Linked DNA regions of Homo sapiens: all the other regions are linked to region 2. Evidence: fine-mapped expression QTL. A gene starts in region 2. Each other region holds a variant in brackets. All regions are shown on one strand. Distances are from middle to middle. Region 1 has its middle 34 kb from the start of ZNF740. Region 2 holds the start of ITGB7 (integrin subunit beta 7). Region 3 overlaps CSAD (cysteine sulfinic acid decarboxylase).

Region 1 (4,168 bases), 60 kb after region 2:
ACAGAGTTGTGGTGCCTGATTGACCCACCCTCCTTTCTTTTTTTTTTTTTGAGATGGAGTCTCGCTCTGTCGCTGAGGCTGGAATGCAGTGGCGCGATCTCGGCTCACTACAACTTCCGCCTCCTGGGTTCAGGCGATTCTCTTGCCTCAGCCTCCCGAGTAGCTGGGACTACAGGCAGGTGCCACCCTGCCCGGCTAACTTTTTGCATTTTTAGTAGAAACGGGGTTTCACCGTGTTAGCCCAATCTGACCAATTGGGACCAACTGATGGTCCCAATCTCCTGACCTCTTGATCTGCCCGCCTCGGCCTCCCAAAGTGCTGGGATTACAGGCATGAGCCACTGCACCCAGCCGACCCACCCTCCTTTCTAGAGTTTTTAAATGTTAAGTGGAGGAACTTGGAGGTTGGGTTTTTGTTTGTTTGTTTGTTTTTTGAGACCGAGTTTCGCTCTTGTTGCCCAGGCTGGAGTGCAGTGGCCTAGGCTCACAGCAACCTCCAGCTCCCGGGTTCAAGTGATTCTCCTGCCTCAGCCTTCCTGAGTAGCTGGGATTACAGGCATGTGCCACCATGCCCGGCTAATTTTGTATTTTTAGTAGAGACAGGGTTTCTCCATGTTGGTCAGGCTGGTCTGGAACTCCCGACCTCAGATGATCCGCCCGCCTCGGCCTCCCAAAGTGCTGAGATTTCAGGTGTGAGCCACCACACCCGGCTGGAGGTTGGGTTTTGTATAAAGATGGCAGTGTTTTCACAACCCTTGATTTAGCATTAGCATTACAAGTTTCATAGAATTATGGCCCATGGAGGCTGAGGCAGGAGAATTGCTTGAACCCGGGAGACGGAGGTTGCGGTGAGGTGAGACAGCACCATTGCACTCCAGCCTGGGCGAAAGGCAAGACTCTGTCTCAAAGAAAAATAATAAAAAAAAAAAAAAATAAAGATAATGGCTATTCAGGACTGTTTCTTCTTAGGTAAACTTTGGTAGTTTTTGTCTGTTAAGAAATTTGTTTTGGCAGCCGGGCATGGTGGCTCACGCCTGTAATCCCAGAACTTTGGGAGGCTGAGGTGGGTGGATTGCTTTGAGCTCAGGAGTTTGAGACCAGCCTGGGCAACATGGTAAAACGTCATCTCTACCAAAAAAAAAAATACACACACACACACACACACACACACACACACATATACGTGTATATATACGCGTGTATATACGCGTGTATATAAGCGTGTATATACACGTATATATATACGTATATGTGTATAATACGTCTATATACGTATATATACATACACATATATACATACACACGTATACATGCATATATACACACATATATACATACATATATACATGTATACGTGTATGTATACATATATACGTATATATACATATATACGTGTATATATACATATATACATATACACATATGTGTGTGTATATACATATGCATATATGTGTGTATATATACATATACATATATGTGTGTATATACGTATACATACATGTGTATATATATACATGTACATACATGTGTATATATGTATACATGTACATATGTGTATTTATGTACACATATGTACATATGTGTATTTATGTACACACATGTACATATGTGTATATATGTATACGCATGTACATATATGTGTATATATGTATACACATGTACATATATGTGTATTTATGTATACGCATGTACATATATGTGTATTTATGTACACGCATGTACATATATGTGTATTTATGTATACACATGTACATATATGTATTTATGCATACACATGTACATATGTGCACATACGTATACATACATGCACATATATGTGTATATATGTATACATATATGTATGTATATGTGCATATACGTATACATAT[G/A]TGCACATATACATGTGTATACACATATGTATGTATATGTATATATACACATATATGTGTGTGTATATGTATATATACACATATATATGTGTGTAGGTGTGTATATGTATATATACACATATGTGTGTGTATGTGTGTGTGTATATATATATATGCACACACCCCTATATATATGTGTATGTATATATAACTAGCCAGGCTTTGGTGGCTTATGCCTGTAATCCCAGCACATGGGAGGCTGAGGCTGGAGAATTACTTGAGCCCAGGAAACAGAGGTTGCAGTGAGCTGAGATCGTGCCACTGCACTCCAGCCTAGGTGACAGAGTGAGATCCTGTTTCAAAAAAAGAAAGAAAGAAATTTGTCTTGGGGACACTGCCTATGAGGTAGCCCTGTTCCACAAGAAGCAGTTAAAAAAAAACAGTCTCTTTTCTTTCCTTTTTTTTTTGAGATGGGGTCTCACTCTATCTCCCAGGCTGGTCTCAAACTCCTGGGCTCAGGCAATTCTTCCATCTCAGCTCCCTGAGTAACTGAGACTACAGGAGCATGCTTCAAGCCTGGCTATTTTTTTTTTCTTGTAGAAATGGGGTCTTACTTTGTTGCCCACACTGGTCTCAAACTTCTGGCTTTAAGCGATCCTCCCGCTTCACTCTCCCAAGAGCTGAGATTACAGGCATGAGCCACCAAACCTGTCCAGAAATTTGTCTATTTCATCTACGTTTCAGCACTTATTGACATAAACTTATTTTCTTATTATCCTTTCAGTTCTGTAGAACCTATATTGTCACTTTTTTCATTTCTGATATTAATTATTTGTGTTTTCTCCCTTTTTTTTCTTCCTGTTCATTTTAGTGAGAGGTTTATTGCTGTGATGGTTGATTTTTTTTTTTGGTAGGGATGATGTGTTCTTTTTTTGTTGTTGTTTTTTGAGATGGAGTCTTGCTCTGTTGCCCAGGCTGGAGTGCAGTGGCATGATCTCGACTCACTGCAACCTCCACCTCCTGGGTTCAAGCAATTCCCCAGCCTCTGCCTCCCAAGTGGCTGGGACTACAGGTGCATGCCACCACTCCTGGCTAATTTTTGTATTTTGTTTTAGTAGAGACGGGGTTTCACTGTATTGGCCAGGTTGGTCTGGAACTTCTGATTTCAAGTGATCTGCCCACCCCAGTCCCCCAAAGTGCTGGGATTACAGGCGTGAGCCACCTCGCCTGGCCTGGGATGGTGTTTTGCTATGTTGGCCAGGCTGGGCTCAAATGAACCTCCTGCCTCAGCTTCCCAAAGTGCTGGGATTAGGGACATGAGCCCTAATGTCTGGCCTGTGACGGTTGATGTTGTATGTCAACTGGCCTAGGTTAGAGAGCTGGTAGACATTATTTCTGGGTGTGTCTGTGAGGCTGTCTCTAGAAGAGCTTGCATTTGAATTGCTGTACTGAGGAAAGAAGATCTGTCCTCATCAATGTGCAGGCATCATCCAATCACTGAGGGCTCAATAGAACAAAAAGGTGAGGAAAGGGCACATTCTCTGTCTTCTTGAGCTGGGACATCAATCTTATGCCCTTGACACTCACCTGAGGACACTGGAGGTCCTGGTTCTCAGGCCTTTGGACTCTGGGATGACACCATTTCCTGCCCTGGTTCTCAGGCCTTTGGCCTCAGACTGGGAGCTCTGCCACTGGCTGCCCTAGTTCTCATGCCCTTGGACTCTGATTGAGTAACACCCCTAGCTTTCCTGATTCTCCAGCTTACAGATGGCATATCATGGGAATTCTTGACCTCCATAATTGTGCAAGCCAATTCCCGTGATAAATCTCTTACATATTTACATATATCCTAATGGTTCTGTTTCCCTGGAGAATCCTGACTAATACAATTGCAACTGATCTTCTCAAAGAACCAACCTTGGTTTCACTGGGTGTCTTTATTGTTATCTACTTAATTGATTTCTGCTTTAATCTATTATTTCCTTTATTCTGCTTATTTTGAGTATAATCTCCTCTTTTCTAGTTTGTTAAGGTGGAAGCTGAGGACATTGGTTATAGATTTTTCTTCTTTTCTACTATAGGCATTCAGTGCTATAAATTTCTAAGTACTGCTTCAGGCTTTTTCTTCTTCTTTAAAAAGAATTTTTTTTTTTTTACATTTTTAGTAGAAATGGGGTTTTACCATGTTGGCCAGGCTGGTCTCGAACCCCTGGGTTCAAGTGATCCGCCTGCCTAGGCCTCCCAAAGTGCTGGGATTACAGGTGTGAGCCACCACTCCTGGCCCAACTTCAGTTTTATCCCATACATTTTATCTCATAAAT
Region 2 (4,000 bases):
TCCCCCCACCCTCTCTGTTCCCACTCTTCACCCCATGACCTCCACTCACTGCCACCTGCACTGTTACCTTCTTTCCGAATATCTGTCCTTGCTCCCACACGCCTTCCCTCTGCAACACGCCTTTGCAGTGCCTTTGGCCTCTACTGCTGCACCCTGTACTCTTCCCTTCGCCCTCTGTGACTCCCCTCAAGCCCCTCCTCCGTGTCCTACCTTCCCTGGGACAGTGCCTTGCCTACCTTGTTCCTGGCTCTCTTCATTGGTGACCTGTGGTTATGACAAAAAAGTTGAGGATGTGGGAGTAGGGGAGAGAAGAGTGGAGGGCGGAAAGCAGAAGAAGAAAGTGAAAGAAGCTCTAGAGGAAACCACAGGGCCTGTGGGGAAGGAGGGTCATTGCCGTGGTAACCCCTGGTTGTGGGGGAAGGGTATAGGTCCTGGCTATCCCATAGCCTGAGGCCAGCCAAGCCCACCCAGAGAAAGAGCCCCTCCTCTCCAATTGTCCCCTCCTAGCAGCTACACCTCTGCAATCCATCTGACATTTATTGAGCACCTACTATAAGATGGGCACTTGGCTAGGTGTGGTGGCTCCAGCAGGGAAGCCTTGTAGAGCCAGTCCCTGCCTACAAGGAGTGCTCCTTCTGGTAGGGGAGATCGACCTGTGAACACAGACCTCATGTCTAGTTCCCTCTCAAAGCTCTTAGTGATCTGTATGGGCCAGGAGCAAATCCCATTAATATTTTCCTGCTCTCCCTACGGGCTTCATCCTTGCCTTGGCTTCAGCTGTTGTTCCTGCACTCTCTGCTTCTCCCAGTTCACCTCCTCCACCCCTTTCCCAGGATCCACTACTGTGTTGGCTCCTGGTTCCCCAATCACATGCTCTGAGCCTGGCCCTATGCCTCTCTCTTCCAAGTTTCCAGTTGTGTGGACCTTGAATTTCTCAAAGCCTCTTCACTTCTCACCTCTGCTACTTCTCATCCCTACTAATTCTCTTATCAAGCCCTTACTTAGTATGTGCCAGGTAGTCTTGTAGGCAATTGATATGAATTATCTCTTTTAATTCTCACGACAATCCTGTGAGTCTTGCTGGACAGATGAGAAAACAGCTGCAGGCAGGTTTAAGTAACTCAGCTAAGCTCCTTACTACTAGTAAGTAGTAGAGCCAGGATTTGAACTCTAGCAACTTGGCTCCAGAGCCTATGTAGTCAAGCACACTTATATAATGTATCCTGGGTTTTCAAAATGAACAAGTCTGTAATTTCTGGCCTCTCTACAGTACTTACTGCCCCTATTCCCTCCTATCATGTTCCTTCCTATATAAGTAAATGGAGAGATCATGAATTTTGGAGGCAGGCAGACCTGGATTTAAATCCCAGACCAGCCGAGTGTGCCTGTAATCCCAGCTACTCAGGAGGCCAAAGTGGGAGGATTGCTTGAGTCCAGGAGTTACAGACCAGCCTGGGCAACACAGCAAGACCCTGTCTCAAAAATAAAAAACAGGCTGGGCATGGTGGCCCACACCTGTAATCCCAGCACTTTGGGAGGCCGAGGTGGGCAGATCAATTGAGGTCAAGAGTTTGAGACCAGCCTGGCCAACATGGTGAAACCCCGTCTCTATTAAGAATATAAAACGTTGCTGGGCATGGTAGTGCACCCCTGTAATCCCAGCTATTCGGGAGGCTGAGGCAGGAGAATCGCTTGAACCTGGGAGGCGGAGTTTGCAGTGAGCTGAGATTGTGCCATGGGACAGTGAGCTGAGATTGTGCCTGGGAAACAGAGCAAGACCCTGTCTCAAAAGTTAAATTAAATTAAAATAAAAAAAATAAAATAATAAAAATTTAAAATAAAAATCTTTTTTCTTTTTTTTTTTTAAATCCTAGACTAGCTACTTACTAGCTGTGGGACCTTGGGCAAAATTCTTTATTTCCTGCTTCCAAGCCTCAATCTCTGCATCTGTAAAATTGGGGCTTGGGGGAATATTAACCCCTATCTTATGAGATTGTTGTGAGGGTTAATTGTAATATGTTACGTTCAACACATGACAGGGGTTCAATAAATGGGCTTCTTTCTTCCAGATCTCTGTATTGTCCACTCCCTTGGCTCAGCCCCACCCCTATCTGCACCACCTTCTAGATCAGTCACCCCCACCAACCCCAAATCTTCCCCACCCTGGGGAGTGTCACTTCCTCCTCTGCCGTCTCCCAGATCAGTACACAAAGGCTGCTGCTGCCGCCAGAGGAAGGACTGCTCTGCACGCACCTGTGAGTACCAGGGCACCAGCCCTTCTGCCTCCTCTCCTTACAAGCTCTGGCCCACCTGGTCCCAACCTCTTGGGAAGAGGGCTCTGACCTGGATACCGAGGGTCCTGTCCAGACTTGAGAAAGGCTCTGAACTCCTTTCTGCATTCCTAAGATCCCCTGACCTGGTTCCCTCCTCCAGTTTCACAGTACCCCCACCTCCACCTCTCCAAAAGCCCAATCTCTCCTGCATCAGTTTCCCATGAGTGGGTCTGGAGGCAGGGATGTATATGAGTGCTGTCATCTGAGTGCCTGCCATGTGCCAAGGACTATACCGAAGTAGGGCAGGTATACCGATTATACTGAGGGAGGGTTCTTCCAACATCACCCCCAGCTGCTATCCCTAATGCTCTGCCTTCAGCTCAGACTTCTTCCTAATCGGCACCTTGGTCACAGACTCCACTGTCCTGGGACACTGAGGCCCAGCAGCTCAGTTCCGTCCCCTCCTTGTGACTCCCAGTGGGCAGCAGAGGGTTCTGCTTGATTTGGAAGGTAGGGATGGGTTTGGAAGAGGCTCTGTTTCTCAGCTGCTGAGGGGGGTCACAGGGTGTGTACTGGAGTCAGAATGGAGTCCAGAAAAATGGAAATAACCACTTGGTCCCAGAGAGAGAAGGGAAGACTGCAGAATACCCCTAAGGAAAGAGAAATGGGATTAGGCAGAGCCCACCAGGGCTAGTGGGGAGAGAACACAACTTTTGATGGAGATAGTGCCTGGGTTGGAGGGAGGAAAGGAGAAAGCACAGCAGAGGCCTGGCCCTGCCCTGTCCTGCCCTGCCCCTAGTTCACTGGGTGACCCTGGCCTCATGGAATTTAGGTTTCCATTTGTAAAAAGAGTGGGATGGAGTAGTAGATTCAGCCATTCTATAGTTAGGAACAGAGGGGAAAAGGAAGTAAAATAGCCCTATGAAGAAGTGGAGCAGAGAAAAGCAGCAGAGAGATGCAATAGAAGTTTTGAAATGAAAGGAGCCAGAGAGAGACAGAGAAGCAGACAGAGAAATAGGTGGCAGAACATGTATTCTCAAGGAGGGGAGAAGAGAGGATAATTGGAAAGAAAGGTAGGAAAGGGCTGTCCAGGAAGTCCCAGGGCCCCCTTTAAGGGGAGATGAGTGGGCCTAAGGTCTCTGAAAAACCTATGCGGCAGCCGGGGCTCCACTTGTGAGAGATGAGTCAAAACCCGGCTTTGGGTTGCAGCATCTCCAGCCTCCCTGACCACAGGCATGCAGAGCAAGCAGGGCTGAGGTTACGCTGAGGCTGAGCTGGGACTGGCCTCTCCCCGAGGGGTGGAGGCTCCGTTATATATGGCGCCTGAGGTCACAGGTGGTGGGGAGCAGGACCAGGACATTCAAGGACTCAACACCCCACCCCTTTCCCACACTCTGTGCAGAGTATCTGGACCTGACTCTGGGCCCAGGCTGAAGAAGATGCAAATGGTTTATGACAAGGAGTTAGTTGGCCTTTCTCATACATTGCTGATGGGAATGTGGACCAGTACAAGTCCTGAAGAGTTTATGTTGGCAATACCCACCTATATATATATATTTCTTAGCATGAGAATGTAGATGAAATACACACCAGTATTACAAATGATACCTATCTAGTTATCCTGCACGTCCTCTGCTAGGGATTTATCCTACAGATTCAGTTGCAGACGTGTGAAATGATAAATACATGACATTTGGCTGGGGGTGATGGCTCACGCCTGTAATCAC
Region 3 (4,353 bases), 34 kb after region 2:
TGGGCCAGTTGAACTTTCCTGCCTTTCCATGGTGACCTCTCAACTCCCTCTTGTGGCAATTTCCCTTTATTTTACATGCAGGTCTCTCTTGCCAGCCTGTTAGCTGGAGCCCACAGGGCAGATGCAGCACCTAGGGTAATGCCAGCCAGGCGCTCAGAAGTAGACAACACTCAGTCAATGTTTGCTGAACAAACTGAACCCATTCCCTTCCCTGAGAGCCAGCGGGGGTTGAGGGGTTGCGTAATAGAGATGAGCAGTGTGTGGCTCCCTTTGCCTTCCATTAGACCTTTGATAACAGTGGATTGAGGAGTTGGGAAACCACATGATGTGCAAGGGACATTCCTTGAGCCTGATGATTTGTATATTTTAGAATTCTTGTACCCCCTTAATTCCTCCATATATATATATATTTTTGAAATGGAGTCCCACTCTGTCGCCCAGGCTGGAGTGCAGTGGTACCATCTTGGCTCAGTGCAACCTCCGCCTCACAGGTTCAGGTGGATCCTGCCTCAGCCTCCTGAGTAGCTGGGATTACAGGCACCCGCCACCACGCCCGGCTAATTGTGTATTTTTTAGTAGAAATGAGGTTTCGCCATGTTGGCCAGGCTGGTCTCAAACCCCTGACCTCAGGTGATCCACCCACCTCAGCATCCCAAAGTGCTGGGATTACAGGTGTGAGCCACCACACGCGGACAATTTTTATATTGTTTAAAAAGAACCGTTATTTTAATTCCATAAGCAATGTGAAATGATTGTATAAAGTTATAAAAATATAGATGTGTATAAATAATAAACTTAAAAATCATCCATAACAACACCCAGAAATAGCCACAAATGAATATTTTGAAGTCTTTTTCCTTCTTTTTCAGTATTTTCTTTTTTTCTTTTTTTTTTTTTTGAGATGGAGTCTCGCTCTGTCGCCTAGGCTGGGGTGCAGTGGCGCGATCTCTGCTCACTGCAAGCTCTGCCTCCCGGGTTCACGCCATTCTCCTGCCTCAGCCTCCAGAGTAGCTAGCTGGGACTACAGGGGCCCGCCACCACACCCGGCTAATTTTTTGTATTTTTAGTAGAGACGGGGTTTCACCGTGTTAGCCAGGATGGTCTCGATCTCCTGACCTCGTGATCCGCCCGCCTCGGCCTCCCAAAGTGCTGGGATTACAGGCGTGACCCACTGCGCCTGGCCTGTATGACCCGTTTTACATGAAATGGCCAGACTAGACAAATCTACAGAAACAAAGTAGATTAGTAGTTGCCAGGGGTCGGGGAAGGGGAGAATGGGAAATGACTGCTACTGAGGTTTTTTTTTGGGTGATGAAAATGTTCTGGCGTTAGATAGTGATGATGGTTGCAACAACTTTGTGAATTTATGAAAAAAACACTTAATTGTACACTTTTCACCCCACTTCCTCTGCCATCTTGGTCCTGCTGTCCTGAGGAGCTACCTGTGCACCCTGCCTCCGGCTCTCCTGAGCAGAGAGGTAAGCTTGTCTCTGCCTTAGGTGGAAATGGCCACTAGAGTCCACTTGCTCAGCACTGACTGCCTTTTCTCTCCCACCTGTTCCCACTGGTTTTCTCCCTGGGCACTCTCACTTGCCCTTGTCTGTGCACTGGAGGCCGAGACTGAGCTGCAGGGTTTGGGCCTCAGGCCCGTTTGGGAGAGGAGGCTCCTGCTGGGTAGGTCCGGGAAGGGTTGACAGGCTGAGTAGGGAATGACTCTGCTCTGCCACAGATCCTGATGGCTGACTCAGAAGCACTCCCCTCCCTTGCTGGGGACCCAGTGGCTGTGGAAGCCTTGCTCCGGGCCGTGTTTGGGGTTGTTGTGGATGAGGCCATTCAGAAAGGAACCAGTGTCTCCCAGAAGGTGAGTCCTTTCTTCCTCCTCCTTCCCATCAAGCTTTCTTTCTTTTCTTTTCTCTTTTCTTTTTTCCTTTCTTTTCTTTCTCCCCCCCCCTTCCTTCCTTCTTTCTTCCTTCCTTTTTTCCTTTCTTCCTTTCTTTCTTGACAGAGTCTCGCTCTATCGGCCAGGCTGGAGTGCAGTGGCACAATCTTGGCTCACTGCAACCTCCGTCTCCCGGGCTCAAGCAGCTCTCCTGCCTCAGCCTCCCGAGTAGCTGGGATTACAGGCATGTGCCACCACGCCCGGCTAATTTTTGTATTTTTAGTAGAGACGGGGTTTCACCATGTTAGCCAGGCTGCTCTCGAACTCCTGACCTCAGGTAATCTGCCTGCCTCGGCCTCCCAAAGTGCTGAGGTTACAGGCGTGAGCTACCACGCCTGGCCCAAGCCTTCTCTTTCTCTTTCCAAATCTGGCTCAGAACTTTCCTCCTTTGATAAGATTTCTCCCCAGAATTCATCCCTGCCCCCCTGGGTACCTCAGGGATTTACATTCTGGGTCTTACTGTGTTCACTACTCTTGTTCATTTTCAGAGTTTTGCTTTGGAAATATCCCGAAGTTGTTTTTAGTGCAGGTTGGCCGTGTCTCGTGTCTGTGGAGGTGT[G/A]GTTTGACAGCCAGTCCACAGGCATCCCAGGCCCCCAGCATCCCCGGCTCTCTTCCTAGGTCTGTGAGTGGAAGGAGCCTGAGGAGCTGAAGCAGCTGCTGGATTTGGAGCTGCGGAGCCAGGGCGAGTCACAGAAGCAGATCCTGGAGCGGTGTCGGGCTGTGATTCGCTACAGTGTCAAGACTGGTGGGCCCTGGCTTCTGTGAGGAGGAGACTTGGGAGTTTGCCCTGAGCTCTACTCTGAGCTCCCTGGCTTACTCTCCTTCTCCAGGTCACCCTCGGTTCTTCAACCAGCTCTTCTCTGGGTTGGATCCCCATGCTCTGGCCGGGCGCATTATCACTGAGAGCCTCAACACCAGCCAGTGAGCATCCCAAGGCCCCTCTACCATCCCACAAAGGATTTAGGTTTGCTAGAGAGGTGCCTGAGGGGTAGGGGAGGAGAATGGTTCTGCCCTCTCTCTACTGCTTCTGGGAATCCCTGTCGGCAGAGAGTTTTTCCTCATATCCTTTGGACCCACTTTCTCCAAACTTTCTCAGGCCTCCTGACCCCTGTTTTCTCTTTCTTGCTTCCCTGGTTCTGTCACCAACTCGTTCTTCTCCTTGGACTGTTGCTTTGCTCACTCTTCACTGCCTCCTTTTTGTGACTCCTGTGCAGTTTAAGGGCCTGTCTGGGCAGTCCCTCCCCATCTCTCCTTTCTCGTCGTTCTCTCTCCTGGCAGGTACACATATGAAATCGCCCCCGTGTTTGTGCTCATGGAAGAGGAGGTGCTGAGGAAACTGCGGGCCCTGGTGGGCTGGAGCTCTGGGGACGGAATCTTCTGCCCTGGTTTGTGAGAAGGAGGAGGACCTTTCTTTGCCCTTTTTATGAGTTCCTCCTCCCCCACCGTTCTCTTGCTCTAGTGTCTGGCAGGGAGGGATGATTCCTCTTTGATTCCTCTCCAGCTGGACCCAGGCCAGGCCAGGGAGGCGGCTGCCTGGTCCCTTCATGCTCATGTTTGTCACCATTCCCTGGGGTCAGTGGTCTAGTTCCTGCTATCTCCGGACGGGGGCTGTCTCTTGGGGGCAGCCCCAGATGTGGAGAGGTGTGGTCAAGAGGATCTGCTGATCCTGGATCCATTCTGGGATGGTATGATCCTGAGAATTGTGGCCTGGGAGCCAGTCATACCTGCTTCTTTGATGAGCTCTTCTGGTAGAAAGGGAAGGGAGGCAAGCTCCAGTCTTGACCCACTGCTCCTTCCTCTTGCCACCGCCCCCTCCCTGTGACAGGTGGCTCCATCTCCAACATGTATGCTGTAAATCTGGCCCGCTATCAGCGCTACCCGGATTGCAAGCAGAGGGGCCTCCGCACACTGCCGCCCCTGGCCCTATTCACATCGAAGGAGGTGGGGAAGAGGCACAGGCCCAACCCTGGGCTCCTGATTCTAATCTCCAGCCAGCTAAGTAGAGACCTTCCAGGTCTTCTCCCTGCCCTCCCTACATCCTCCAAGGCCAGCCTGCCCCCAGGCGGATGTGCTTCCTTCCAATCAAGGAGGTCAAGTAACTGCTCCTGTTCACATTGCCTTCTGTTTGGGGGCAGAGGAGGGGCCGTGAGTGCAGTGGACACAGTCCATACTCTTCCTACTCAAGAGTGTGGTCTGTGGACCAGCAGCATTGGTATGACCTGGGGCTTGTTAGAAATGCAGAATCTGGCCGGGCACGGTGACTCACGCCTGTAATCCCAGCACTTTGAGAGGCTGAGGTGGGTGGATTGCCTGAGCTCAGGAGTTTGATACCACCCTGGGAAACATAGTGAAACCCCCTCTTTACTAAAATACAAAAAATTAGCCAGGCATGGTGGTGGGCACCTGTAGTCCCA

The links. PIP is the estimated chance that this variant, and not a neighbour inherited with it, causes the effect. A credible set is the group of variants that fine-mapping cannot tell apart.
Region 1: its variant is the best candidate, but not a certain one, in a credible set for the expression of ITGB7 in whole blood (TOPMed, PIP 0.76).
Region 3: its variant is the best candidate, but not a certain one, in a credible set for the expression of ITGB7 in whole blood (INTERVAL, PIP 0.62).

What each region holds. Positions count from the first base shown.
Region 1 is chr12:53,144,968-53,149,135 of GRCh38, reverse strand. No RefSeq gene overlaps it. Among named protein-coding and RNA genes, the nearest start is that of ZNF740, 34 kb to the left of the region's middle. The variant G/A (reference allele first, on the strand shown) is at 1,869.
Region 2 is chr12:53,205,457-53,209,456 of GRCh38, reverse strand. ITGB7 (integrin subunit beta 7) reads left to right here and starts at 2,206. Exons shown (of 16, transcript NM_000889.3): 1 at 2,206-2,255.
Region 3 is chr12:53,170,853-53,175,205 of GRCh38, reverse strand. CSAD (cysteine sulfinic acid decarboxylase) reads left to right here. Exons shown (of 17, transcript NM_001244705.2): 3 at 1,436-1,478; 4 at 1,730-1,861; 5 at 2,558-2,684; 6 at 2,770-2,860; 7 at 3,218-3,324; 8 at 3,765-3,880. The coding sequence starts at 1,736. Among named protein-coding and RNA genes, the nearest start is that of ZNF740, 7.7 kb to the left of the region's middle. RefSeq lists enhancers at 1-327, 3,194-3,693. The variant G/A (reference allele first, on the strand shown) is at 2,499.